7 separate regions of the Homo sapiens genome follow, and regions 1, 2, 3, 4, 5 and 6 are each reported to be linked to region 7. The links are microRNA targets in miRTarBase. Many come from high-throughput screens and were not tested one by one. Region 7 holds a microRNA gene; each other region holds the end of a gene's coding sequence.

Evidence for each region. Region 7 holds the annotated microRNA hsa-miR-4325 (UUGCACUUGUCUCAGUGA, at 2,833-2,850, shown strand). A microRNA usually pairs through its seed, bases 2 to 8, with sites in the 3' UTR of a target mRNA and lowers its output. Matches are read on the target gene's strand: a 7mer-m8 pairs with bases 2 to 8, a 7mer-A1 pairs with bases 2 to 7 and ends in A, and an 8mer does both.
Region 1: the mRNA of ZNRF3 is a reported target of hsa-miR-4325. Seed matches in the 3' UTR shown: 7mer-A1 at 1,236-1,242 and 7mer-A1 at 3,211-3,217.
Region 2: miRTarBase lists DENND2C as a target of hsa-miR-4325. Seed matches in the 3' UTR shown: 7mer-A1 at 2,386-2,392.
Region 3: miRTarBase lists ZDHHC24 as a target of hsa-miR-4325. Seed matches in the 3' UTR shown: 7mer-A1 at 1,993-1,999, 7mer-A1 at 3,516-3,522 and 7mer-A1 at 3,846-3,852.
Region 4: miRTarBase lists C1GALT1C1 as a target of hsa-miR-4325. The part of its 3' UTR that is shown has no 7-base or 8-base seed match.
Region 5: the mRNA of IPP is a reported target of hsa-miR-4325. The part of its 3' UTR that is shown has no 7-base or 8-base seed match.
Region 6: miRTarBase lists GOLGA6L4 as a target of hsa-miR-4325. Seed matches in the 3' UTR shown: 7mer-m8 at 2,689-2,695.

Annotation. Positions count from the first base shown.
Region 1 is chr22:29,052,942-29,057,028 of GRCh38, forward strand. It overlaps ZNRF3 (zinc and ring finger 3), which reads left to right. Exons shown (of 9, transcript NM_001206998.2): 9 at 638-4,087. The coding sequence ends at 681. Among named protein-coding and RNA genes, the nearest start is that of C22orf31, 6.8 kb to the right of the region's middle. RefSeq lists a silencer at 2,260-2,554.
Region 2 is chr1:114,582,160-114,586,159 of GRCh38, reverse strand. It overlaps DENND2C (DENN domain containing 2C), which reads left to right. Exons shown (of 21, transcript NM_001256404.2): 21 at 529-3,310. The coding sequence ends at 560. It overlaps LOC105378914 (a long non-coding RNA gene), which reads right to left. Exons shown (of 3, transcript XR_947719.4): 1 at 3,761-4,000; 2 at 3,522-3,635. Among named protein-coding and RNA genes, the nearest start is that of BCAS2, 2.5 kb to the right of the region's middle.
Region 3 is chr11:66,536,263-66,540,356 of GRCh38, reverse strand. ZDHHC24 (zDHHC palmitoyltransferase 24) reads left to right here. Exons shown (of 3, transcript NM_207340.3): 3 at 533-4,094. The coding sequence ends at 828. Among named protein-coding and RNA genes, the nearest start is that of ZDHHC24, 7.7 kb to the left of the region's middle. RefSeq lists an enhancer at 1-757.
Region 4 is chrX:120,622,858-120,626,857 of GRCh38, reverse strand. C1GALT1C1 (C1GALT1 specific chaperone 1) reads left to right here. Exons shown (of 2, transcript NM_001011551.3): 2 at 1-1,184. The coding sequence ends at 648. Among named protein-coding and RNA genes, the nearest start is that of C1GALT1C1, 5.2 kb to the left of the region's middle.
Region 5 is chr1:45,696,381-45,700,474 of GRCh38, reverse strand. IPP (intracisternal A particle-promoted polypeptide) reads left to right here. Exons shown (of 9, transcript NM_005897.3): 9 at 285-1,764. The coding sequence ends at 509. Among named protein-coding and RNA genes, the nearest start is that of TMEM69, 10 kb to the right of the region's middle.
Region 6 is chr15:84,242,001-84,246,094 of GRCh38, forward strand. It overlaps GOLGA6L4 (golgin A6 family like 4), which reads left to right. Exons shown (of 9, transcript NM_001267536.3): 8 at 147-249; 9 at 460-3,358. The coding sequence ends at 592. Among named protein-coding and RNA genes, the nearest start is that of GOLGA6L4, 8.3 kb to the left of the region's middle.
Region 7 is chr20:57,320,320-57,324,413 of GRCh38, reverse strand. It overlaps MIR4325 (microRNA 4325), which reads left to right and starts at 2,823; the gene lies at 2,823-2,912. The region is part of intron 2 of LOC105372687 (a long non-coding RNA gene); the gene reads left to right.

The DNA of each region.
Region 1 (4,087 bases), not on the chromosome of region 7:
CTAGGCAACACAGCAAGACCCTGTCTCAAAAATAATAATAAATGTTAGCATCTCACTCAGTTCTGTGTGATCCAGCTCCTGCCAACCCATCTGATGAGCTCCTGGTTCACTCTCCTTGCTTCCTGCTTTCACCTCCTGTGGCCCCTGTCCCGTTCTTCCCATGTGCCAAGCTCATTCCAGCCCCCAGACCTGTCCGCTACTTTTCTCCTCCAGATCTTAGGTTAGGTAACACTCCAGCCCCCTCTGAGATCACCTACACACCTTCTGTTCACTTCTGTCATCCTATTGCTAAATTACTTTGTCTCAAGGTTCGTAATCTCTGTGAGGGAGTCCTCTCTGCTGCTTTTCCCAAGGCCTGACGCACACCGGGCACCCAGTTAACATCTTTAATATATTGGGCTTTCGTGCTACCTGAGGGCTTCTAGAAAGCTCTCTACATCCAAGTGAGAGGCTGGCTCTCCAGGAGGTACCTGTGCTCTCAGCACAAATGGAGCCCCTCTGGGAACAGGAACCTGCTTCAGCCCTTTAGCATACACAGGCCTGCCACATGCTGGGGACAGGGCCACCTGAGTCCCTTGCCTGGTCCCATGTGTGGTGCCAGCTCCCTCCCCTGATGATTGTTCTCTCTCTTTCCCAGGACCGAGATCTCACTCAGCAGACAGCAGCAGCCCGGGAGCCTGAGCTCAGGAGGAACTCTTACCTGGAAATTGGGAACTGTATGGAGACTCCAAACTGACTTCTTTCAAAAAACAAAAACAAAAAATTTTTTTAGCTTTGACAAACACACAAAAGTGGTAATAAAGAGAGCCCTCCTTGTCAACCCAAAATGTGAGCCCCCTGTGGCAAAACCACCCCCTACCCCATTAACAAATCAACAGACAAAATTCTCCGAGTCCTTTGCCTCTTTTGATAACATGTTGTTCTGTTTTGTAAAGTGTGTGTGCTTGGGGTTCCGAGGTGTGGGATTGAGTTCTCTGCTTTGTTTTTTTTTAAGATATTGTATGTAAATGTAAAAAGTTATTTAAATATATATTTTAAAGAACCCTAACTGCCAACTTTTGCTGAAAAAGAAAAAAAAATCACTGCTGCATTAAATGAACCACATCATGTGTAGATACTGTTGTCTCCCTGAAGGGAGCTCAGGCCTTTGAAAAGCTCAGGGCTTCACCTGCCTTAGAAAATGAACCAGAAACTTGAAGTAAAGCTAGTTGATAGGGGTACAGGCTCTGAGGAGCAGTGCAAAACTGCCTCTTTCTTTCTCGTGGCAAATCCCAATGTACACGATTTCAGGTCTCAGACGCCATGCCTCTCCAGCCCACGCCTTTAGGCAGGTGATGGCAGCAGCTAGGAATAGGGTGTACATGATCCACAGCCCTGCGGAGCCAGGTCAAGCCGCTGCTATGAAAGCTCCAGGGTGATGGGGACGATTCTGCCCAGTGTCCTCAGTCTGTCCCCTCAGGTCATGGTCCCAAGTGAAATGACAGAGTTCACAGCCCTGGTCTTGGCTGAGGTCCAGGTCATAGTAAGGGCATGTTCTTGGGGCCCTCGACCTGAACTCTGACCCTCCGGGCAGGGAAGAGGAGGTTGTCCCCTTTGGTTGTCCTGGCTTTGGAGTCCTTTGCAAAAATATTTTGGGCCCCCTGCCACTGGCTGCAGAAATGGCTCGACGGGGTGTGTGGGGACAGACACCCAGAAGGAATGTACTTTTGTGGCCTTGGTGTCCGATGGGGCTGGGGGAGAGTGCTCTCCACTGACCCAGCAGCACACCCATGTGCAGTGCGCCTGCATCTGTGTGGGGGCAGCCACACCCCTTGGCTGCTGCTTCCTTGGGCTGCCTTTCTGGGGGCATGTGACTGGACCTACGAGGTCTGCACTGAGCTCCATTTGAATGATACCTTTCCTATCCCATTTCCCCCACGGAAGCACCGCTTCAGGGTTATTCAGTCCTCTGCCTCATGGCTGAAATTGCTCATCTCGTCTGCAGATGTCTACTATCCTGTCTACCTAATGCACTATTATGTATTGATTCTCCATGAGACAGAGAGAGAGAGAGACTATCAGATAGTTTACACCCAAAGGGTAGGTTTTTGTATATTTTTCCAGCCTTTTTTATTAAGGGGAAGGGGAGAGTTTAAAAACCCAAACCGTTGTGGTTTTAAGGTGTTTCATTTTTAAAAGGGAGAGAGAATCTATTTAAAGCTATTTCAGATCAGGGATTGTCATCCTTTTTTGTCCAATGTATTCCTTGTTCTTTAAAAAAATTTTTTTTAGAGGAAACTAATATTAGTCTTTGTGTTCACTAACTCTTCTGGTCACTTGTATTTATTTATTCATTCATTCATCAGATATTTGTTGCCATCTGAAAGAACTGGCCCAGTGGGTCTGAAAGCTCGCTTGAGAATAGGAAACTTGAGACCTGGCCCCCTGTGGGTAGGAGAACAAGGACCACCTGGGTTCTCCAGTCTTGAACGAGAATCTCACTCTTATCAGAATGTTTTTCTTAACCTCAGCGTATGATGAGGAAATTTACTTATCTCTAGCTAGGATTTGACAAATTCCAACATCAAATGATCAAAACATTTGCCACTGAGGCTTCACTGGTGAGATCCGTTCTCCGTCCTCGGGTGCAGTCCCTTGGGGGCTGCTCCTCGGACTGCGCCCCGCACACCTGTTATCGAGGGTGTGAGAAGCGCCTAAGCTGGTGACATGTGATCTGGGACGCCTTCATTTCTCGGGCCAGGAGTAGCAGCTGCTAAGGACAGCAGCTTGCATTGCGTGGTTTTAGGGAAGCAGGGTCTGGCTTTTAATATGAACTGCAAAAAGCAGCTTCTCACTGATATTTTTTTGTTGTTGTTTCTGGGGGGTTTTTTTGTTTTGTTTTTAATGCCTTTGAGTGCATATTTTCTTCCTCGTCTGAAACCGAACTCCCAAAGTGGCTTTCTTTAGCCCTGGCTGGAAAACCACCTCTCAATAGCCTTAAGCAATAAATAGATGAGTAGAGAATGTGGCTTCAACTGGGCTTATTAAAGTAAGTGTGTCTAGTTTTCACTTGAACAAGTGATAGCTGCAGATGGCGAAAGAAACCCATTTAATTTTTGTAGCTTACAGGTGGTAGAAACAAAAATGCAATTTTAAAACCTTAAATACCAAATACCAACCATTGCCTTTTTTTTTTTTGAGATGGAATTTTGCTCTTGTCACCCAGGCTGGAGTGCAATGGCGCGATCTCACCTCACTGCAACCTCTGCCTCCCGGGTCCAAGTGATTCTCCTGCCTCAGCCTCCCAAGTAGCTGGGATTACAGGCATGCGCCACCACACCCAGCTAATTTTGTATTTTTGGTAGAGACAGGGTATCTCCATGTTGGTCAGGCTGGTCTTGGATTCCCGACCTCAGGTGATCCGCCCACCTCGGCCTCCCAAAGTGCTGGGATTACAGGCGTGAGCCACCATGCCTGCCCAGCAATACCAACCATTGTCTTTTAAATTCGTGTTGGCTTCTCAGACAGGGAGATCACTGGAATAAAATAACCGATGGTCTTATTTTGTCACACGTAAATCAAAAGAAATGTCCTCTTTGAAGTTGTAAGACTCCACCAATGACAGACACCCTTTTCGGTGGACTCTGAGTGGTGTGTAGTGGTTTTATAGCCATGGAAACTAGGAGTATCTCACTTTCCACTGAGAACCCCTGCCCCCAATCCCTCTAAGTTGGGGTGTGGCAGTTGGGCAGGGTCAAGTGACCCAGCCCTGGCTGTAGGACAGCCATATACAGTGAAGAGTTCTAGAACCAGCTAAAAATGGAAGTTTGGGTGTTTACCAACAAGGTACCTCTTTATGGATGCAGCCCCAGTAAGCTGGCTTTAACTCTCAGCTCCTTCCCTGTCTCCTCCTAATCCAAGCCCTTTTATAAAATAAAGCCCCTTCTGTCCCACTGCTCACATACTTATGTGCTGCTAGTCTCTACTCGAAGTTCGTGCAGGACTAATGCTTTTAAAATGAGGTCTAAAAAATAATTACTAGTCGAGACTATTATTCTTTAAACAGAACTGCCTTTTTCTACTCTTTATGTAAACTCTTTCTATTGTG
Region 2 (4,000 bases), not on the chromosome of region 7:
AGGGGTGTGGCTAGCCTAAAATAATGAATAACCTATATGCTACGATATTTATATTTTGTCTTTGAAATATATGCCCCCTAATTAGGCCCTGTCCTTCACTAGCTGACAGACCATGGACAAATTAGGCCTTAGGCTGTTATTTCATCTTTATACAATGGGGTTAGATTAGATCAGTGGTTCCCAGCTCTGACTACATTTTATAATTTCCAGAGAACTTAAAAAAAATTTTCCCCTGGGCTCCAGGAAATCTCTGGGGAGAAGCCAGGTGATTTTAACCTATAGTCAAGGTTGAAAACCACTGGATTACATGATGTCTGAGTTCTTTTCTGCCGCTACAATTAACTAGACATATGGGGTTTGGGGTTCATTTTTGTTTTTGTTTTGGGGGTTAAACACATCAACTGAGTTTGAGATGTCAGCTTAACTCTTGGGCTGTTCTGAATGACTGACCTGTTAATCCCTTACCTCAAATAATGTACAATAAATAAAAATGAATTGAGCATTCACTGTACTTTTCTTTCCCTTTAGGAAGCAAAATGAAATTTCTGCAAAAGAAATGAAATCTCTGATTGTCTCCATCCTGAATATACAACAGAAAGTGCCAAAGAAAATATTTTTCTAAGGGTCAGGATCCCATGAAGTATTCTACAAAATTCTTGAAATTTTAAAAGGTTAAAGAGCGAGTCAGGCTGTTAGAGGAGGATTCTCCTGTTGCTGCTGTAGTAATCACTGGAGAATTGTTGGGAATGGTCTGGCACCATGCCATCTTTACTCTGTCTCCATTTTTTTTTTATAGCAGCCTTTTCTATGTGATTCTTGGGCTCATTCTCTGTTTTGTGCTTTGTCTGTGAAAGTAGTTGTGTTTCACAAGGAAAAGCCTTGTTGTTGTTACATTTAAAAAATAGCTCAAAGATGAGAATAATGAGAGAAATGCTGAGTTTAAGGTAGTAGAGAGACATGATGGAAATGGAGAACACTAGCCTTATACACATAATTCTCATCACTGAACTATCATGGCCCCTTTAAACCCATGGGCTGTTTGACCTGGGCTAAGGAATAGACTCATCACATATCTCCATTGTTTTGCCTTATATTATATCTAGGGGAATCTCACTTAGGAGGAAGCCCTACTTGTAATATTATAAGGTACTGTTATTAAGTACCTTATAAAATTAGACATCTTGCAACTCCTCCTCCAAATTATGTGGCATTTGAGTAGTTTGCTTGTGCCTCACATGTCAACATTAAACTTTGTGGAGGCTGGATGCAGTGGCTCACACCTGTAATCTCCACCACTTTGGGAGGCTAAGGCAGGAGTTTGAGGGTGGGAGTTTGAGACTAGCCTGGGCAACATAGCAAGATCCCATCTCTACAAAAACATTTTAAAAATAAGTAAATAAATTTAAACTTTGTGAAATTATAGCTAATATGAAAATGTCCTTTCAAGGGCATGGGAGCCACCTTTATTTTTTAGTGTCCACCATGTGCCATGCACTGTGGTATATGTATGCATATCATCTCAACCAATCCTTAAATCAACCTTATGAGATAGATATTTGCATCTCCATTTTACTAATAAACTGAGGCTGGGTGCTATGGCTCACGTCTGTAATCCCAGCACTATGGGAGTCCAAGGCGAGTGGATCATTTGAGGTCAGGAGTTCGAGACCAGCCTGGCAACATGGTGAAACTCTGTCTCTACTAAAAATACACACAAAAAATTAGCTGGGTGTGGTGGCAGGTGCCTGTAATCCTGGCTGCTCGGGAGGCTGAGCCATGAGAATCGCTTGAGCCCAGGAGGCAGAGGTTGCAGTGAGCCGAGATCGCGCCACTGCATTCCAGCCAGGGTGACAGAGCGAGACTCCATCTCAAAAAAAAGAAAAAAGGAAAAGAAAAAAGAAAAAAACAAATTCAAAGAAGTTAAATACGTTGCCCAAAGTTGTACAACACAGAACTGAAGCCAAGACTTTTATGGACACAGAAAAAGTTGGTTAGTCCTACAGATGGAAATTTCATCTCAGTAGGATTATATAGCTATTTCTTTTATTAATAAAAATTTTCTATTAAGTGTACCAGAGCCACTTTTCAGCTCTGAGGATAAGGAACTTTATAGGTGCCTAGATGAGACTCTTTTTATTCCCCTAGAAATGTTGAAATTTTTGCTCTAATTAAATTAGACTCAAAATATGAACATTCCTTGAACATATACCACTTAGTCATCCAGACCTTTAATATCTAAAGTAGTAGTAGTAGTGATTGGAAAGAGAAAGTTTTCAGTGATGGTGCAGTGTTTTTTTTGTGTGTGTATGTGTGTGTGTGTGTGTTTTGTTTCGGTTTTTTTTTTTTTTTTTTGAGATGGAGTTTCGCTCTTTTTGCCCAGGCTGGAGTGCAATGGTGTGATCTCGGCTCACTGCAACCTCCGCCTCCCGGCTTCAAGCAATTCTCCTGCCTCAGCCTCCTGAGTAGCTGGAATTATAGGCACCCGCCACCACACCTGGCTAATTTTGTACTTTTAGTGGAGACGGGGGTTTCACCATGTTGGCCAGGCTGGTCTCGAACTCCTGACCTCAGGTGATCCACCCACCTTGGCCTCCCAAAGTGCTGGGATTACAGGCATGAGTCACTGCACCCGGCCTGTGTGTGTGTGTGTGTGTGTGTGTGTGTGTTTTCAAACTCATGGGCAAATTCAAGTTCAGATGGTGCACTTTTCATTGATTAATGTTATAGCAAATGTCAGTTTGTTTTCTTCAGTTTCTGCTGATGGTTTTAACTGGCACAGAAAGTATTTATTCAACCTTACAAAACTGTGTAAGTTGTATTGTGATACAGTTTATTGACTTGTACAGTATTGTCATTACAACCCATTCAGGTATGCATGAATCTGAAGCAGAACACCATTTAAGACTGGTGCTGTATAATATAATTCCTACAGATGTGGGTCCAGGGAATAGAACTGAGCCTGTCTTTTTTTTAATGTTAAGCAGGTTACCCCCAGTGGGGCTTCTACTAGACATCTCTCCATTTGGTCTCTTCTTACACTCCAACCCAGCAGGAACAGTTAATAATTGGATGTTTATAAAATGGGGGTAAAAGGGTTTACTGTGATGGATCCTGGCTATCCCTCTAGGAGGAGACCTTTGCTTCAGCAATGGTGTCTTCATCCTCGCAGCCTGAAGCTGCTTCATTTCCTTAGGTCTGTTGTGTTTTCTGTAAAGTGTTAGGAATTCTGGATATTTTTGTAAAAGAATCAAGATTTGTATAAAATGTTGTTTACAGATCTTTTAATGAATAAATACATAAACCCCCCACAGATCCCTTGGAGAATTCTTTAAGATCTTTTATGTCACTTAAATCTATAGCTAGCACATTTACCTAATGGTACTTCGGTAATAAGAATTAGTCTTAGACTGACCAGGCTTAATAACGGAGGTCAACATTTCCAGGCTCTTGGCAGACAAAGGCTGGGTCTAGACTGCACACTGGGCAGGGCATATAGTCTGACAACTTTATTTGGTTTTTACCTGCTTAATCAAAGGGAGGCTGCTTAGTCCAGGAGCCATGCAGAAGAGAGTGCATGGGCAGCAGCTTGAGTGGTTCGGAGGCAGTGAGGAATGCCATTCTATTACCGTTAAGTCCTAAAGGCAAAATGACAGGATTTTTAAGGAACTGAGGTTCCTTTTGATACGCAGACCATAAAGCTTCACAATTTTAATTGGAGACTGGCGCCCAATTCTAGAGTCTCTTTAAAAAATGTACTTACCCAATGCAAAGGTTTTAAGGGCACCGAGGGGGAAGGATAGTTGGGGTACAGCAAGGAAGTAAAAGAGGAATGACCCGGGGTGCAGTGGCTCACGCCTGTATTCCCCACATTTTGGGAGGCCAGGAGTTCGAGGCTAGGCTTGGCAACATAGAAAGGCTCCATCTCTACAAAAAAAATTAAAAATTAGCCAGGCATGGTGGTGTGCACCTCTAGGCCCAGCTACTCGGGAGGCTGAGGTGG
Region 3 (4,094 bases), not on the chromosome of region 7:
CTCCCAGGTTAAAGCGATTCTCCTGCCTGAGCCCCCCAGCCTCCTGAGTAGCTGGGATTACAGGCGCCTGCCACCACGTCTGGCTAATTTTTGTATTTTTTAGTAGAGACGGGGTTTTACCGTGTTGTCAAGGCTGGTCTCAAATTCCTGACCTCAGGTGATCTATCTGCTTCGCCCCCCCAAAGTGCTGGGATTACAGGTGTGAGCCACCGCATCCAGCCAAGAATGGCCTCTTTAATGTCTGTGAGCTCCCCAAGGGCAGAGACACCCTCTAGTGCCTGGCACCGCCTCCAGGGCTGAGGAGGTGCTCACCAAGTCTGTGATGCAGGAATGAAGCCGTATCCCAAGTAGGGGGCTGCGTCTGCCCAGTTTACCAGTGCGTTCTTGTCACCCAGCACGGGCTGGCCAGCGAGTATCGACACAGGGTTTGCTGAGCGGAGGAATGAGCCCTGCTTTGTGGTGGAGGGGAGCAGGTGGCAGGAAAGCCGGACCCCACTGCCCCTCCCTGACCCTCTCTGCTCTTTTATTGCAGGCAGAGTGTCTCTGGCACAGTTTGCCTTGGCCTTCGTGACGGACACGTGCGTGGCGGGTGCGCTGCTGTGCGGGGCTGGGCTGCTCTTCCATGGGATGCTGCTGCTGCGGGGCCAGACCACATGGGAGTGGGCTCGGGGCCAGCACTCCTATGACCTGGGTCCCTGCCACAACCTGCAGGCAGCCCTGGGGCCCCGCTGGGCCCTCGTCTGGCTCTGGCCCTTCCTGGCCTCCCCATTGCCTGGGGATGGGATCACCTTCCAGACCACAGCAGATGTGGGACACACAGCCTCCTGACTCCAGGAAGAGCCAGAGCTGTGCAGGGAGGAAGGGGTGAGAGGGGGGCCCCCACACCTAGACTCAGTAAGGAAGTCGGGTTGGACCTTAACATCTGCATTGGACAACTCCACCCCTTCCTTGGCCTTGCCCCTGCCCGCCTACACTCCTACGTGTCCAGGGCTTGGGCCGTGACTTAGGCAGAGGAGTGCAGAGGAGGGTCTGGCAGGGGCTGCTCAGGCCGCCTAGCTGCCCCTTTGCCAGGTTAATAAAGCACTGACTTGTTTCTCAGCCTCCCTCCATCTTTGCATAGTTTCTGGCCCCTCACTTTGTTGCTGGGGCTGTTTCTGGGACCCTCTGTAGGGCCTGGAAACTGCAGGATGCCTGAGGGTCTCAGGGGCTGGGGCTCTACCTCCCCTGGCCTGGGTGAGTTGGGGGTGGGGCACCAGCACGCCAAGGCAGTGTCCTACTGATCCAGGCTATGAGAATCCAAACATTCTTTCCCAGGTTTGGCATTTTATAGTTAGAAGCATTTCTGCAACAGCAGTTTCATGGAACCTCTCTTAGCTAACCTGGTCCATGGGGCAGCAGTTACGCTCTAAGAATCCATGTGGTAAGATCATGGTGCGGCAAATGGAGGCAGGGTCCAACCCAGGTCTTTGTGCTTTTGCCTTTACCCTTGCACAGCTGGAGGAAATGAGTAGGAAAGAAATCAAGGTAAAGAAATGCGCTGGGGCTGTTTGGGCATCTGTGGAGGGTGGTGCTGACAGGGCTAGGCCTGCACCTCTCTGGCCTCCTCAAGAGCTGCTTGTTAAATGTTTCCGTGTAAATAGAATGAATAGAGACCGCCATTTCCACATGGCAGGCCTAAACACATGTGTTCGTCTCAGTTTTCTCTTAGGATCTCTCTAAGATGATAGTAAAGAAAATCAAAAATAATACAAAGGGAAAGAAAACAGGAGGGAAGACAGTAGAACACAGAGCCTGACCACATTTTCTTTTTTCTCTCTGTTGCCGGGGCTGGAGTGCAGTGGCACGATCTCGGTTCACTGTAACCTCCACCTCCCGGGTTCAAGTGATTCGGCCTCCCGAGTTGCTGGGATTACAGACACCCGCCACTATGCCCGGCTGATTTTTTTTTTTTTCTTTTTTGAGACGGAGTTTTGCTCTTGTTGCTCAGGCAGGAGTGCAATGGCGTGATCTCGGCTCACTGCAACCTCCGCCTCCTGGGTTCAAGCGATTCTCCTGCCTCAGCCTCCCGAGTAGCTGGGATTACAGGTGCCCGCCACCATTCCTGGCTAATTTTTGTATTTTTAGTAGAGACGGGGGTTTCACCATGTTGGCCAGGCAGGTCTCAAACTCGTGACCTTGTGATCCGCCCGCCTTGGCCTCCCGAAGTGCTGGAATTACAGGTGTGAGCCATTGCGCCTGGCCATGCCCAGCTAATTTTTTTGTATTTTTAGTATAGACAGGGTTTCACCATGTTGGCCAGGCTGAACTTGAATTCCTGGCACCTGCCTCCACCTCCGTCTCCCAAAGTGCTAGGATTACAGGCGTGAGCTACCGTGCCTGGCTGACAATTTTTTATTATTTTATTTTATTTTATTTTATTTTATTTTATTTGAGACAGACTCTTGTTCTGTTGCCAGGCTGGAGTGCAGTGGCACGATCTCGGCTCACTGCAAGCTCCGCCTTCTGGGTTCACGCCATTCTCCTGCCTCAGCCTCTCAAGTAGCTGGGACTACAGGTGCCTGCCACCACGCCAAGCTAATTTTTTGTATTTTTAGTAGAGACGAGGTTTCACCGTGTTAGCCAGGATGGTCTCGATCTCCTGACCTTGTGATCCACCTGCCTCGGCCTCCCAAAGTGCTGGGATTACAGGTGTGAGCCACCACTCCTGGCCGGCCAGGATGGTCTTGATCTACTGACCTCGTGATCTGCCCGCCTTGGCCTCCCAAAGTGCTGGGATTACAGGTGTGAGCCACCGTGCCCGGCCGCCTGGCTGACATTTTCAAAGATGGAAAGTGGATGGAGAATTAAGAGCTGAAATTATGTGTTCCCAAAAGGTGGGGCCAAAAGGCAAGTGGAATTACCTGCCAGAGCCCCGGAGGGGCTCAGGAACTCCACCAGGACCATGGAGGGTGAGGTGAGGCTTCGGCCAACAATGGGGACCGATGGAAAGTCTATGTAAGGATCAGTGGGGTGCCGCTCCCCCACATCCCACCCACACCCCACCCACATCATGCAGCCAGCAGCTACACCTCTGGGTGGGGTGGTGTGACGTGAGGATTATTTGAAGGATAAATGGAACCAGAGAAGCTTCGGGTCTTAGGCGTACTGGGGAGGGGTGGGTGAGAGGCTAGACCAAAAAATGGGGTTAAGTGAAAGTCCATAGATACTGCTGGGGGGCCTCCCATGAAAGAACATGCTTGACCCCCAAGAACCTTCAGAGAAACCCACCCTCTGACAGGCTCTGCCCATGCCCACAAAGATCTGAGCTGCTTGGCTGGTTGTTTTTGTAACAGGCATGCTCTGTTGCTATTTTTTAATGACAGGAGGAACTTGGTGTACCTGGCACTTTGGGCTGCACAGACGCATTAGCAGACTCACCTTGTCCTGTTTCATCCCTCGCCCTCCACAATTTCTTATTTTCTTTCTTTCTCTTTTTATTTTTTGAGACAGAGTTTCACTCTTGTTACCCAGGCTGGAGTGCAATGATGCGATCTTGGTTCACCGAAACCTCCGCCTCCCGGGTTCAAGCGATTCTCCTGCTGCAGCCTCTCGGTAGCTGGGATTACAGGCATGTGCCACCATGCCCGGCTAATTGTTTTTGTATTTTTAGTAGAGACGGGGTTTCTCCATGTTGGTCAGGCTGGTCTGGAACTCCTGACCTCAGGTGATCCACCTGCCTCGGCCTCCCAAAGTGCCGGGATTACAGGTATGAGCCACTGCGCCCAGCCCACAATATCTTATTTTCATGTTTTTTTGTGTGTTTTGTTTTATTTTTCGAGATGGAGTCTCTCTGTTGCCCAAGCTGGAGTGCAATGGCGCGATCTTGGCTCACTTCCTGGGTTCAAGCGATTCTCCTGCCTTAGCCTCCCAAGTAACTGGGATTGCAGGCACCCACCATCATGCCCTGCTAAATTTTGTACTTTTGTAGAGATGGAGTTTCACCATGTTGGTCAGGCTGGTCTTGAACTGCTGACCTCAGGTGATCTGCCCACCTTGGCCTCCCAAAGTGCTGGGATTACAGGTGTGAGCCACCATGCCTGGACTCGTTGTTGTTG
Region 4 (4,000 bases), not on the chromosome of region 7:
AATGTTAAAGTGTTTGAGTCAATTAATATGGACACAAATGACATGTGGTTAATGATGAGAAAAGCTTACAAATACGCCTTTGATAAGTATAGAGACCAATACAACTGGTTCTTCCTTGCACGCCCCACTACGTTTGCTATCATTGAAAACCTAAAGTATTTTTTGTTAAAAAAGGATCCATCACAGCCTTTCTATCTAGGCCACACTATAAAATCTGGAGACCTTGAATATGTGGGTATGGAAGGAGGAATTGTCTTAAGTGTAGAATCAATGAAAAGACTTAACAGCCTTCTCAATATCCCAGAAAAGTGTCCTGAACAGGGAGGGATGATTTGGAAGATATCTGAAGATAAACAGCTAGCAGTTTGCCTGAAATATGCTGGAGTATTTGCAGAAAATGCAGAAGATGCTGATGGAAAAGATGTATTTAATACCAAATCTGTTGGGCTTTCTATTAAAGAGGCAATGACTTATCACCCCAACCAGGTAGTAGAAGGCTGTTGTTCAGATATGGCTGTTACTTTTAATGGACTGACTCCAAATCAGATGCATGTGATGATGTATGGGGTATACCGCCTTAGGGCATTTGGGCATATTTTCAATGATGCATTGGTTTTCTTACCTCCAAATGGTTCTGACAATGACTGAGAAGTGGTAGAAAAGCGTGAATATGATCTTTGTATAGGACGTGTGTTGTCATTATTTGTAGTAGTAACTACATATCCAATACAGCTGTATGTTTCTTTTTCTTTTCTAATTTGGTGGCACTGGTATAACCACACATTAAAGTCAGTAGTACATTTTTAAATGAGGGTGGTTTTTTTCTTTAAAACACATGAACATTGTAAATGTGTTGGAAAGAAGTGTTTTAAGAATAATAATTTTGCAAATAAACTATTAATAAATATTATATGTGATAAATTCTAAATTATGAACATTAGAAATCTGTGGGGCACATATTTTTGCTGATTGGTTAAAAAATTTTAACAGGTCTTTAGCGTTCTAAGATATGCAAATGATATCTCTAGTTGTGAATTTGTGATTAAAGTAAAACTTTTAGCTGTGTGTTCCCTTTACTTCTAATACTGATTTATGTTCTAAGCCTCCCCAAGTTCCAATGGATTTGCCTTCTCAAAATGTACAACTAAGCAACTAAAGAAAATTAAAGTGAAAGTTGAAAAATATCCCTGAGAAAAAAAACTGAAAATTACTTACAAAATTGAGTAATTTTCCTGGAAGCGAATTTAGTGTCATTCCTCAGAGCATACGCAATTTCAGTGTAACTGTCTGTACTTCAGCCTGCAGATACTGACATTGGATTGGTGCCTATGAAGAATGTCATGTCATTTAATTGTGTTGTTTCTCAGTTAATCAAGCTCCCAGCTGCAATTTGGATAAAAATGTAGTCCTGCTGGGTCAATGAGTTCTGTGGAAATTTGAAGAACTTGTTTTGGCCATCTGGCAGTTTCACTTACCTGAGTTGAATCTGTTCTGTATTTTGTTTTGTTTTGTTTTGTTTTTTTGACACAGAGTTTTGCTCTGTCGCCCAGACTGGAGTGCAATGGCACAATCTCGGCTCACTGCAACCTCTGCCTCCTGGTTTCAAGCAGTTCCCTTGCCTCAGCCTTCCAAGTAGCTGGGATTACAGGTGCCCACCACCACACCTGGCTAATTTTTTGTATTTTTAGTAGAGATGGGGTTTTGCCATGTTGGCCAGGCTGGTCTCGAACTCCTGACCTCAGGTGATCACCCGCCTCGGCCTCCCAAAGTTCTGAGATTACAGGCATGAGTCCCTGCGCCCAGCCTGTTCTGGATTTTGTTTCCTTGTACAAGTTCAGGGAATTTTCCCATGTTCACAGCTGTACCATATCTGTTTTCAGTGTGGAGGTCCTAACCTATCTACTTTGCATTACCATACCTTTTCCCAAATTTCAATGGCTACTCAGAAACTTAATCCAGTGGTAAATGCAATAGCTCCTGTACTGATAAATGTGTGAAATACTTAGAGCTGACTTGTTCTGCAATCTGGCCAGCACATGCTGTGAGTCCGCATAGAGTGTTAGAGCATGACATTTTAGAGATCAATATTTCTTGTAACTGGCCTCATGATGGTAATGGTCTCCCACAGCTTTAGCAAACCAGAAAGAAAATTTCCTTAAGATGGCCTTGGGCTTGAAGTTATTGATCCTCAGGGTAGTGTGTAAAACTTTGCTTTATTTCTGATTATTCTCATTGAGGGTTTTGGTTAAGATGAAGCGTTATTAGTTTTGAAGAATAACAAAACCCCTTTATGAAGCCCCCTAATATGTGGTCTCAGATGCAATTACTACAATCAAATCATGTTCAATGTGAGTACAGTAATAAACAGTATCTCTCAGAGTGTGACACAGCTTATCTGTCACCTTGCCCCCAACACCAGTATATTTAAAATTTTTCTATTGCATTTATCATCTTCACTTACATTAGTACATCAGAGTATCATCATAAACATGTCAGAATGCATTGCATTGTGTGTTTTGCTAATGAGTACTAAGGTAACATTGCCTTTTAAGCCAAATTGATGCTCTTGATTGTATCTTTATACATATTTTTTTTTTTTGAGACGGAGTTTCGCTCTTGTTGCCCAGGTTGGAGTGCAATGGCGTGATCTCGGCTCATCCCAACCTCCACCTCCCGGGTTCAAGCAATTCTCCTGCCTCAGCCTCCCGAGTAGCTGGGATTACAGGTATGTGCCACCACGCCCAGCTAATTTTGTATTTTTAGTAGAGACAGGGTTTCTCCACGTTGATCAGGCTGTTCTCAAGCTCCTGGCCTCAGGTGATCCGCCCGCCTCGGCCTCCCAAAGTACTGGGATTACAGGCGTGAGTCACTGCGCCCGGCCGATACTGAGTATTTTTTTAACGAAATGTTAGGTGTCTCAAATAATATGCTGTCTCTCTGAACTTACTTGCAGCCAGTCTTGCAGATAAAATCTGAATCAATAACAGAAAATAGTACTACTGAGGTTGTGGTTACAGATTTGATCACCATATATGTCTGTTAGCTTTACATAGAAAAATAATATATTCAGTAACCGAAAACAATAACCCTAACCCCACTCATGATGAGAGAGTTGGAAAAAATGGAGGTCTGATGGAAATTGATCGGGATTGTGAATATACTCTACATACGGCTAGTGGCTGTCATATTGGACAGCACAGGTCTAAGCAATTCTAAGTGTAAGATCCCACTCCTGGCTGAGATGTGAATAAGAGAAAACTTGAAGTTTCCTCTAAAAGTTGTATTTGTTTGTCTGGTTGTCTCAAATGCAATGGAAACCACAGCATGACTTTTAGCAGGCCCCAGACCATTGCCTTGTGTGAGTTCAATCACTGAATCTTCCTTTTCAAAAGTAAAACATTGGATCTGGAGCAAAATATAGATTTAGACCCCTTGGCTATTTTCTGGGGCGGTGGGCTGGCAGGGGAGTAAGCTAAAAGGTTGCTTGTGTATCAAATCTGATTCATAATGCCCAGATTTTTCTATAATGCATTTAAACAAACTCAGTTATTGGGTGTTCTTAAAGCAGGGCATACCTGTAATAGAAAAGTTGCTGAAAATATAGTCTAATGATGATGTACCGCTAATTTCCCTTTCATTTGTTAAGAATATTGTGTTCTGGCTGGGCACAGTGGCTCATGCCTGTAATCCCAGCACTTTGGGAGGCTGAGGCTGGCAGATCACCTGAGGTCAGGAATTCAAGACCAGCCTGGCCAACATGGTGAAACCCTGTGTCTACTAAAAATAGAAAAACTAGCTGGGCGTGGTGGCGGGCACCTGTAATCCCAGCTACTCGGGAGGCTGAGGCAGAAGAATTGCTTGAACCTGGGAGGTGGAGGTTGCAGTGAGCCAAAATCGTGCCATTGCACTGCAGCCTGGGGGACAAGAGCGAGACTCCATCTCAAAAAAAAAAAAAACAATATTGTGTTCCTTTTGGTATGGGCTGACTTTGATGCACTCA
Region 5 (4,094 bases), not on the chromosome of region 7:
ACCTACTCAGGAGGCTGAGGCAAGAGGAGCTCTTGAGTCTGGGAGGTTGAGGCTGCGCTGAGCCGAGATCGTTGCTGTGCATTCCAGCCTGGGTGACAGAGCGAGACCCTGTCTCCAAGGAAAAAACAAAGCAAAAAAAAGAAAAAAAAATCTGTATGCTTACCTGACTAGATAGTTTTACATTTAAACATGTAAAAAGAACTGGGATATCGAATTTCTCAGTGGATTTCTTTACTATCATTTCATAACACTGCTAACATATTTTTTTTTTCTCTCTTAACCAGGAAAAGTGGGTTGAAGTTGCCTCAATGAAAGTGCCTAGAGCAGGCATGTGTGTTGTGGCAGTCAATGGTCTTCTGTATGTTTCTGGAGGTCGATCTTCCAGCCATGATTTTTTGGCTCCAGGTACCTTGGACTCAGTTGAAGTTTATAACCCTCATTCAGATACATGGACAGAAATTGGTAACATGATCACCAGTCGTTGTGAAGGGGGCGTTGCTGTGCTATGAAATATAAAGCATAACAGAGCACAAGGAACATTTTGAAAATGCAGGACCTGACCTTTTGCAAAGCAAACATAGATTTGGTGATAAGACCCTCTGATTCTGTGAGTTTTCCATGTATTTGGTAGATAAATGACTAACGAGGCTGGGCGCAGTGGCCTCATGCCTATAATCCCAGCACTTTGGAAGGCTGAGGCAGAAGGATCACTTGAGCCCAGGAATTTGAGGTTGTAGTAAGCTACGATCATGCCACTGCACTCCACTCTGGGCAACAGAATGAGATCCTGTCTCTTAAAGAAAAAAAATAAACTCAAGAATGATTTTTCTAAAAATATGAGTGAGAATGGATATGGAATATATCCCAATTAATAAAGAGCTCACACAGATTTGCCAGGTTTACTAATAATAGAAATGCCATTTATGCTGTAGAATTCTCCAGTTTAAGTGTAGACAACTCCTATTTTACAAATTTGTAGAAATTATTTACTAGAAGCTTCCTGGCAAATAGTCCCTTTAGCTACTTCTCCAGTGCAGTATAAATTGTAACATAAAACTTTATGTGATATAGGAATAGTGTCAATGACACAGTTTAAAGACCTCTATATTCACAATTATATCCAGAGCATAATTTTCCATGGCCATAGTTTGAGCCACAGAGAAAGCCAATGAAATAGATTCCTACTTTTATTTAATGCCAAGAGTTTTCACTAGCCCCAAACTTTTTATTGGCAGCAGATATCCTAGGAGGGGTGTTTGGGAAATATCTAGCTATTTTAATAGATAGATACCTTTTTGCTTGATGATAAGTTTTTGCTTGCTCATATTTTTTGTCTTGATCCTGAGAATGCAAGTAAGGAATTAATAGGAGGTTCTTAGTGACCAGATGTTGTAATGGGCTATACAGTCCAGCAGGCAGTATGCACCTAGAAATTTCTCCCTTTTTTAGGCTGGGCATGGTGGCTCACACCTGTAATCCCAGCACTTTGAGAGGCCGAGGTGAGACGGGAAGATGGCTTGAACTCAGGAGTTCGAGACTAGCCTGGGCAACGTGATGAGACTCCGTCTCTACCAAAAAATATATAAAAATTAGCCGGGCGTTGTGGCTTGTACCTGTGGTCCCATCTGCTTGGGAGGCTGAGGTTGCAGGATCACTTGAGCCCAGGAGGTCAAGGCTGCAGTGAGCCAAGATTGTGCCACTGCACACCGGCCTGGGTGACAGCATGAGAACCTGTCTCAAAAAAAAAAAAAAAAAAAGAAAAAAAAATTCTTCCTTTTTTGCTAGATTGTTGTCACCAAAATTATCTGTTTGGCTTTAGGAAGAGGGAATTTTATTAGATTATCAAGCTTTGTAAAATTTATTTGTACTTGGGCAAACCTAAGTAAGAGCATACTGCAAAGCTACTGCTTGGATGTAGAGGGCTAAATTGTAGGTACTTCTGAAACTTTTTATAGATACTGACTCATAAGTGTAATTTGAAAGTACCCCTTGACCCAAACAAAACTGCTTCTCAAAACTTCTCATTTTCTCCCTGAGAAGCATTCTAAAGAATTGTTCTCTGTTCATTTCTAAGAGAAAGATTTACTGGGTGTATGATGCGGTTACTTTTAAGTTATTTCTACTGGCCAGTTGGAGCAATATATATTAAAGGTCTTGCATACAGTAAAAAAAATTTTTTTTTGAGATGGAATTTTGCTCTTGTTGCCCAGGCTGGAGTGCAAAGGCGTGATCTCGGCTCACTGCAACCTCCGCCTCCCGGATTCAAGCGATTCTCCTGCCTCAGCCTCCCAAGTAGCTGGGATTACAGGCGCCCACCACCATGCCTAGCTAATTTTTCTGTATGGGGTTTCACCATGTTGGCCAGGCTGGTCTCGAACTCCTGACCTCAGGTGATCCACCTGCCTTGGCCTCCTGAAGTGCTGGGATTACAGGCATGGGCCAGCGTGCCCGGCTGCATACAGTAAAATTTAACTAGTTGACTTAAGGATTTGATTTCCCGTTTCTTTTTTTTTTTTTTAGATGGAGTCTTGCCCTGTCACTCAGGCTGGAGTGCAATGGTGTGATCTCAGCTCACTGCAACCTCTGCCTCCCTGGTTCAAACGATTCTCCCGCCTCAGCCTCCCGAGTAACTGGGATTACAGACGTGAGCCACCATGCCTGGCTAATTTTTTGTATCTTTAGTAGAGACGGAGTTTCACCATGTTGGCCAGGCTGGTGTTGAACTCCTGACCTTGTGATCTGCCCACCTTGGCCTCCCAAAGTGCTGGGACTATAGGTGTGAGCCACCGCACTCTGCCGATTTCCCATTTCTTTGCTAAGGTCCTTCAGTATATTACTATAAGCATCATCAACTTATTTAGATAGAAAACTTTTAATTGCATTAATGAATTAGGTAGCACTCATATCCAAATTATTTGGTTTAGGCCGGGCACCGTGGCTTATGCCTGTAATCCTAGCACTTTGGGAGACTGAGGTGGGCAGATCACTTGAGGTCAGGAGTTCAAGACCAGTCTTGCCAACATGGTGAAACCCCGTCTCTACTAAAAATACAAAAAATTGGCAGCAGGTGGTGGTACATGCCTGTAATCCCAGCTGCTGAGGAGGCTGAGGCAGGAGAATCACTTGAATCCAGGAGGTGGAGGTTGTAGTGAGCTGAGATCATACCACTGTGTTCTAGCCTGGGCCATAGAGCAAGACTTTGTCTCAAAAAAAAATAAAACAAAAAATATTTGGTTTAGTCTACAACTATACCTTCCTTATAACTTAACCATATGCATTTATTAGGAAAAGTTTATGTAATGCAGACAGGAAGCTCTATGTTCCCTTCTCTGGGGCATCCTGAACGTCTGAAGGGTCACAGATGTCTGTGTAGAGATCTGTAAGATGTCAAAGAATAAAGATAATTTATAGACTAAGCTATAACTCATGTGCCTTTACTATTTCTAGTTACAGAGAATCTGTATTCTGATTCAAAACAGATTTACAAAATACTTCTACAACTAATTTCTCATTGTCTAGTAGCAACTGAAAATGACACTTTGAAGGGGTGTGCTTTGCACAGCTGTGGCAGAAATGTAATGTCAAGGCAGTCAGTGTTTTAACAGGTCCCGAAGATCCCTGAAAATAGGTGACTGTAAATATGCTTATTATTCCTAGGTAATGACAAGATTGGTTTTGTTTTTGTTTTTGTTTTGAGATGGAGTTTCGCTCTTGTTGCCCAGACTGGAGTGCAATAGCATGATCTTGGCTCACCGCAACCTTTGCCGCCCGGGTTCAAGCGATTCTCCCGCCTCAGTCTCCTGAGTAGCTGGGATTGCAGGCATGAACCACGAGGCCCAGCTAATTTTGTATTTTTTGTAGAGGTGGGGTTTCTCCATCTTGGTCACGCTTGACTCGAACTCCCGACCTCAGGTGATCTGCCTGCCTTGGCCTCCCAAAGTGCTGGGATTACAGGCATGAGCCACCTCACCAGGCTAACAAGATTGTTTTTAAAAGAATGTACTAATAAAGTATCTAGTTTTTTTGTTTCTTTGTATTACTTTATCAGTGGCATTCTGGGTTACCAAACTGTAGTAGGATTGCACAAGTTTTTT
Region 6 (4,094 bases), not on the chromosome of region 7:
AAGGGAGACAGTCTCTTAGGCCTGGAGCAAGGGGCCAGGGGCCTGGGCAGGCCACAGAGCCCCACAGTGTCCTCGCTACCCTATTAATGGGCCAGGAATCTGGAAGCCAGCCACCACATGTCCTCATGCCCAGGGTCTTCCGGCAGGTGGAGCTGAAGAGCCAAGAGGCTCCGAGTCTGCAGCAGCAGCCAGACCAGTAGCTGGAGCCCCAGTCCCACAAGGAGCTTGGATGTGCGGACAAGCAGGGTGGTGAGTAGAGCCCTCAGGCGGGGTGGGCAGGCAGGAGCAGGGGAGGCTCGCACTGTGCCCAGATTCCCACCCCCCTCCCTCTCTCTGAAGATCTTAGTGGGCTGAGCCTCACTGATAGCATGGAGGCTGCACCGGGAGAGGACAGGGAGGGTTCTCCCCCATGACAACCCCACTGCACAGCAGATCCAGCAGCTGCTTCCTCTAATGCAGGACTCCCCAGGAGCACCCAGGCTTGAGTGGAGAAGCTGTTGGTACAGGAGAGGCGGCAGGAGGAGCAGGAGAGGCTGCATGCCATTCTTTTCGGGCTGCGGAGAACAGGGAGCTAAACATCACCATCATCTAAGAGCGGGTCAAGGAATTGAAAAAAAAAAACAAAACATTTAAGGGGTTAATATCCTACACAATTCATTTACTTCATTTGAATGTTAGAGCCACTTATGTTTATTTGTGTTTCTAATTTATAGTTTAAATTTATTTGTGTTTCTAATTTATAGTTTAAATTTATTTGTGTTTCTAATTTATAGTTTAAATTTATTTGTGTTTCTAATTTATAATTTAAATTTATTTGTAAAAAGTTAAATGAGAGTGGGTGTTTCTCTCATGTTCACTCTGGCATCTTTTAGCATTTTTTTAATTTGATAATTATAGGACGTTAGCATGCATATCGAGTTTGCCCTTATGTGGTGGGAGTTCAAACACACAAAGACCCACTGTATGCACACAACTGTTCTTGCTGGTTTGGGATAGGCTGCCATGCTTTTTGAATGTTAGTACAGCCTGTATATTCATTACGGAATTCAGATAAAATTTCCTTATGTTCTGCTGTTATGTTTGATCGAATCCTAATCACAGTGAGCTCTTCATTAGCTCAATATGCAGTTTGCCCTCAAGTGCGCGGTCTATTACTTTGTAATATGCCACTGTGAGTACTGACATTTACAGTTGTTTAAAGGTGGAGCACTGGAAACAGCCTTTCCCCCTTTTTCTGTGTATTGGGGATGGGAGTAATAACATTTTGGGGAGGTTTTTAAATCTCCCAGAAGAGGAAAGTGGCCTGCTTTGGCAGGTGTGTGCAGGATAGAATATGTTTCATTTGTTCCGGTGCCAAGAATGAGCGCTGTACTACGGTAGTTCCCTTAGGATTTGTATGTGCTCTGGGCTCATGAAGATACTGCCTCATGAGCTGTGGCAGTTGTACTCTTTTTTGATGACCTGAAAAGGGATTATTTCTGAGGAATGAAAGGCTCCCATCATGACTGTGGATGTGGAAAACCTTTTCTAGCTGAGAGCATTTATATCTACAATACATTTTAAAGTCAGCGTTCATGTTCCCTGTTTTAATCACATGACTACATGTCCCAGTACACAAAAGGGCACTGGTTGGCGTTCTCCTTAATGTATTTAGTAAAGATCAGAAGAAATCCTTTAAGAGTTTAAATGCCCCTGGAACAGGCATATACAGGCTCTAGTCAAGAATGAATTCGAGTGAAGGAAAGCTGTGTGACACCTGGCATTCCTCTGTGTTCATGGAGCTTATTTGAGGCTAGAAGATGGATTTTACCATCTAGACCTCTCTGGCTAATAGCTAGTCTTCAACCATCTGACATAGGAATTTACTTCTTTTCCTTGAATGGAGAACACTTTAAAAATAATAACAAACATTATTATAAACTAATATATGTGAGAGTACTTAGTTGAAACAAAAAGGAGTTTTAGTAGACAGTATTATACTACATTTGAAAATCAAGGAGCAGTTTATGCAACGTAAAATGTTTACAAACTGCAGCGCAATCTACTGTTTGTGACTGTCAAAGTGTCATGAGGAAAGTGTCTATACAATCACAGAGTTATATTTCCTCACAAAGTTCTTTACGAAGAGTGAAATATGTTTTTATACCTCTCAGTTTCAGTTAGAGGCATATTTTGTGTAATATTTATGGCTTAAAATGGACTAAAGGTCCTGTTCTTGCCTTGTCTGAACTTGCCGCTTTTGCATTCTTTGAGTTCAGTTTAAAGACACTTACTTTAACTCCATTTTAAACCCTCGGGCTAGAAATCGTACCACTGTTAATTAGCCACGTTATTTGGTCTAACAGTTTTTGTTTATCATTCTGAAACTGAGCTTATCTAATACATTGATAAATTATTTCAAAGGTATTTTTATAGTTCAAATCGCTTCACTTTTACCCTGACACGTATAAATGAATAGGAATGACCTTCAGATAGCGTTTAGCAACTGTAACCAATCTGACAATAATGTGTTCATCAGGTACCTGTGGATTAAATCACATACTGGCATATTTAAGATGAATGTCAGTCTGAAAAATAAATATACTATATTAATTCAAATACGACTCTTTGTGTAGGTATTTTGTCATATGTTTAAGAAAAAGCTAAAGAGAATGGAAATCCTATGACAATAACTCAAGTCTTTCTTCAAAGTGCATGCAGTCTTTTGCAGTACCTCATTCAGCCAAGTATTTGTTCTCTACCTCATTCAGTATAAGGCAGCCTTTAATTTGCTTAGAAGGCAACATTAGAAGGTTAGAGTTCAGCAGGAACATAGAATTTTAAAATGTGACTTCAACTGAATAAATTTGAATTTCTCTAGGGAGTAAAGAATCAAAACACCTATTTAAAGACTGCAAAATATGATAATTATTTTTAAAGTAATTGATTAAACCTGGTAGGTTTTCCCAAAATGAAAAACAATCAGTTCTAAAACCAAAGCTGATTTTTAGAAAATGTGAAAATGTAAATCAACCCTATCCATAATAGATTCTCTAAAACTTTATCTTACAGTCACTTTCAAATAACTATTCAAAAATGTAACTGCTATATTAACGTCTTAAAATAATTTAAAACATTTTAAAATATGAATACTGTAGTTTAAAACAAAGAATCTAGGGGAAGGAAAAGTAGACAAAGAAATGCCAATTCCAGTCCAAAGCTGTATTTGCCAAGTTTTCTTAGAATGACTTTTACCGATTTATGAATTCTTATACACAGAATGCATAATGGAAATACTGATTTTTGTCTAAAGTGGCATTATTGACTGCTTCTGTGATGCTACTGTAATGTAATACATTATTAAATTGTTTCAAGGTGCTGTTTTGCCTAAAAATTTTGTGTGTCTTGAAAACTATAGTATTGGGTATTGAGACTCTGCAAATTCTCGGCATGCTTGGCATGAGGTAATCGGTTTTTATTCTTACAAAATTGTAACTATGTAAGTGTGTTTATTAAAAGAACACAAACTAAAAAAGTTAACAGAAATTAAAGTTGTGGGATGAAAAAGTTACAGGATAAAAAAATACTGTGGAAAAGTGGCAAAAAAAAGTTGTGGAAAAAAAGTAAAAAAAAAGTTTTATGAAAAGTTATTTTAAAAAGTTATGAAAAATTAGTTACAGGATTTAAAAAAAGTCATGGGATAAAAATAAAAATAAATAAAAGCAGGCCCCTGTCAGCATAAGCCTGGAGAAGTGGGTCTGGAGTCTTCACCCCCACCATGTCCCTACAACCCCTCCCCAGTCAGCCCTTTACCATTAGGGTAGCAAGACAAGACCCTTGTCTAATGGAGGGAGACAAACAGACCCTTTACCACCTTGACCAAGGCTGAGTCCTTACATTTCTGGATGATGATGTTTGTTATTTAAGAGCCAGAGGTTGGTGGAGTTGGTTTGTTTGGAGGAGGTCTGACGGCCTTCTTACTCTCACCAAAGCAACTTTTCCCTCAGGGGGGCTCCCATCTTCTTACTCAGAGAGGCAGCTGAGGCGGGACAGTGGAGTTAACTGTAGACCAGGCCAGGGCACAGGCTGCTGGGGGTGGCCCCCCTTCCCCCGTG
Region 7 (4,094 bases):
TTAGCTCACATACTTATCATTTTTTTGTGGTGAGAACACACACAGGTAGTCCTAAAATGTACTCTCAGCGATTTTCAAGAATACAATAGCTTGTCATGAACTACCTAGGCACCATGTTGTACAGTAGATCTCTTGACCTTATTCAGCCTGTCTAACTGGAATTTTATATCTTTTGACCCCTATCTCCCCAGTCCCCTAGCCCCCACTCTGTTGCTTACCATGCTACTCCCACTTCTATGAGTTTGGCTTTTTTAGATTTCACATATAAGCGAGACCATGCGGCATTTGTTATGTTTGTTTAGTTTGTTTTCATCAAGATGCGAATAAGGTCCATCCACACATGGCTGTTGGTTGATATGACTCTTAAGTCTCCTAAATTCTATAGGTTCTTCTCCAGTTTTCTTTCCTTGCAATTTACTTGTTGAAGAAACTGAGTCATTAGTCCCAGAGAGTTTTGTGCAATTAGGAGTTTGGGGATTGCATCCCTGTGATATAATTTACTATGTTTTTCTGTTTCAGGTATTTCTTATAAATTGAGAGTTGAATTTGGAGGCTTAACTGTTTCTGGTTTGATTTTTTTTTCATAAAAATATTTCGTAGGTGGTTTGAAATATTTATTTTTTATTTTTAGGCAGAGTCCTGCTCTGTCGCCCAGGCTGGAGTGCAGTGGTGTGATCTCCAGCTCACTGCAACCTCCGCCTCCCGGGCTCAAGTGATTCTCCTGCCTCAGCTTCCTGAGTAGCTGAGATTACAGGTACCCACCACCATGCCCAGCTAATTTTTGTATTTTTAGTAGAGATGGGGTTTCGCCATGTTGGCCAGGCTGGTCTTGAACTCCTGACCTCAGGTGATCCGCCCACCTTGGCCTCCCAAAGTGCTAGGATTACAGGCATGAGCCACCGTGCCCGGCCTAGGTTTAAAATATTTAGAACCTCCATTGTAACCTTCCAGAACTCCTCTGGCTGGGGCTTCCAGGTTGAGAACTTCAGAGCTAGCCTCAATCTCAGCCTCTCATTCACTGAAGTAGCAGCCAAGCCCGGGAGGATAAGTCATGCTGAGCAAAATCTCTGCAGCCTGCAAAATCCCTTCACAGACTACAGACCCAGATGGAGAAAGCTGAGGAGGGCTTTAGAAAAAGCAGCTTCCCTCTGCTGCACTGAGTCGCCCTGGGGATTTGCAGGGGAGGTTCCCCGACCTGGTTCGCTTTCTGCTTGTTAGCACGCAGGGTGGCTTTGTGCCACAGCCCAGCCTGACTCATCCTCTCTGCTCTTTATTTCTTTCCTCCTCACACCCTCGCTGAGCTGCTAATTGCTCTCCTCCACCCTCCCCCTTGGTTGGAATCCTGAGGCCCTGACCTAGAGACACCCCATCACAAGTGTTTTCCAGCTAGCTCCAAAACCTCATCTCTGCTTTATTTGAAAATCAGTCAACATTAAACAGAGACTTGCTCTGATTTAAGGAGACTTTTAAAACTGAAGTAATTTTCCTTCTCTCCCTTCGCTTCTTCGTTTTCTTTTTTATTGTTTGTTTTCCATTTTTTAAGACTTCTTGGCAACTGGTTTTGGGAGAAAGAGGCACTTTTGCAAAGGACCAGAAGGCATGTCCAGTGTTCAAACCCAAGGCGATGAAACCCCAAAAGGTGTTTTCCTTTCCACATCTCTGTCTCTTCCACTCCTAGGCACACACCAGAAGGGCTGCCCAATTTACACATTGGCAGGCTTATGATTCATCCAACAAATGGTTTAAGCACCTTCATGGTTCCCAGGGCCCTTCTTAGTACTGGAGATTCAACCAAGCTTGGCATCACCAAGTTCCTGCACACACATTGCTGGGGAAGGCAGATTAAAAAAAAAAAAAGTCCAGGAACAGTGGCTCATGCCTGTAATCCCATCGTTTTGGGAGGCTGAGGCAGGAAGATCACTTGAGCCCAGGAGTTTGAGACCAGGCTGGGCAACACATTGAGACCCCATCTCTGCAAAACATTTTTTTAAAAAATTAGCTGGACATTGTGGCTCATGCCAGTAGTCCTAGCTACTTGGGAGGCTGAGGCAGGAGGATCACTGGAGCCCGGGAGGTTGAGGCTGCAGTGAGCTATGATCAAGTCACTGCATTCCAGCTTGGGTGACAGAAGGAGACCCCATGTCTAAAGAAAAACAAAGAAGGAAAAAAAATACACAATTTAAGTTCAATCACAGTGTGTTAGAGGGAAAAACAATCTGTGTGGTAGGAAAGTGGGTGACTGGGCAGGAAAGTGCAATGAAGGTGGGAGAGAGGAGGGCAGAAGAAACCTGTCTCAGGTGAGGGCCTTGGAGCTAAAGCCTTAGCTATGAAGAAGATCTGAGGGGACGAGCTCCAGGCAGAGGGAGCGAGGAGCTATGCAAAGGCCCTGCGGAGAGATTCACTGGGAGAACTTAAAGGGCAGAGAGCAGGCCAACGTTGATGGAGAGATGAGCGGGGACGTCTATCGGCCACAGTGAGGAAACAGGACTCTGTTCTAAGGCAGTGATTCCAGTGGGGGCGATTTTGCCCCTCAAAGGACATTTGGCAATGTTGGGAGACATTTTTGGTTGCCACCCATTTGGGGGCAGTTGCTCCTGGCATCTAGTGGGAAGGGGCCAGGGATGCTGCCTATGTCCTGCAAAGCACAGGACAGCCCCTACCACAGAGAACTCATCAGTCCCAGATATTGATAGTGCTGAGGTTGAGAAACGCTGGTCTAAGAGTGGTGGGAGGCCATCAGAGGGTCTGAAGCAAGGGAAGGATGTCGTGTGTGTTAAAAAAGGAGAGTGCAGTGTGGGGAGGGAGAGTGGAGGTAAGGAGATGGGGAAGATGTTGCACTTGTCTCAGTGAGAGATGCTTCTAGATCCAGGAGGCAGACCTCAAGGATGGAGAGAAGGCAGATCCTTTGAGATTGTTCCTATTCAAGTAAGCTATGGTCAAACCTGTTTTGGAAATGTTGTACACTGTACCAAGATAAGCAGTCTAGCGTGAATCCCAGAGCAAGGCTATTTAAGTTCAGATCTTGGCTTTGCCTCTTGTTAGCTGTGTGATCTTGGGCAGGATTCTCAACCTCTCTGTGCCCCAGTTTTTCCATTTCTAAAGTGGAATAATAGGGTCCATCTCAGAGGGCTAATGTGAGGAGTAAATTAGTTAATATACATATAAATAAGCTAATAGATGACTAGAACACTGCGAATACTCAATAAGCATTATCTGGTATTAGTACATACTCCTTTTGGGAGTATCACTAGTTATATCCACAAATTAAAGTCTCTGAGAAGACCTGTATCAAAACTGTTGCTGGACTTGCTTAGCCTGCATTCACTAAACTTATATTTTCATGACACGTCCCCCACCCCCACCAACTCCCTGAACACTCTGAAAACCAGGGATCCTCAGAAAACATTTATTTATTTATTTATTGAGATGGAGTGTTGCTCTGTCCCCCAGGCTGGAGTGCAGTGGCGTGATCTCGTCTCACTGTAACCTCCATCTCCGGGGTTCAAGCAATACTCGTACCTGAGCCTCCCGAGTAGCTGGGAATCCAGACGTGCACCACCACACCTGGCTAATTTTTGTATTTTTAGTAGAGACAGGGTTTCACCATGTTGGCCAGGCTGGTCTTGAACTTCTGGCCTCAGGTGATCCACCCAGCTCACCCTCCCAAAGTGCTGGGATTACAGGCATGAGCCACTGCACCCAGCCCCTCAGAAAACATTTTAAAATCATCTTTATTGAGATCTAATTCACGCATCATAAAATTCATTCTTTTAAAGTATACAATTCAATGGGTTTTGGTGTATTGAAAAAGTTGTGCAATCATCCTCACAATCTAATTTTGGAACATTTTGTCTCCCCCAAAAGAAACTCTGTACTTATTAGTAGTCTCACCTCATTCTCCCTTCCCCCAGCCCTTGGAAGCCACTCATCTACTTTCTGTCTATGAATATGTCTGTTCCGGACATTTCACATAAATGGAGTCATACAGTATGTGGCCTTTTGTGATTGACTTCTCTCACTGAGTGTAGTGTTTTCAAGATACTGCCACGCAGCATAGATCTGTGTTTCATTCCTTGTTATGGTCAAATGCTATT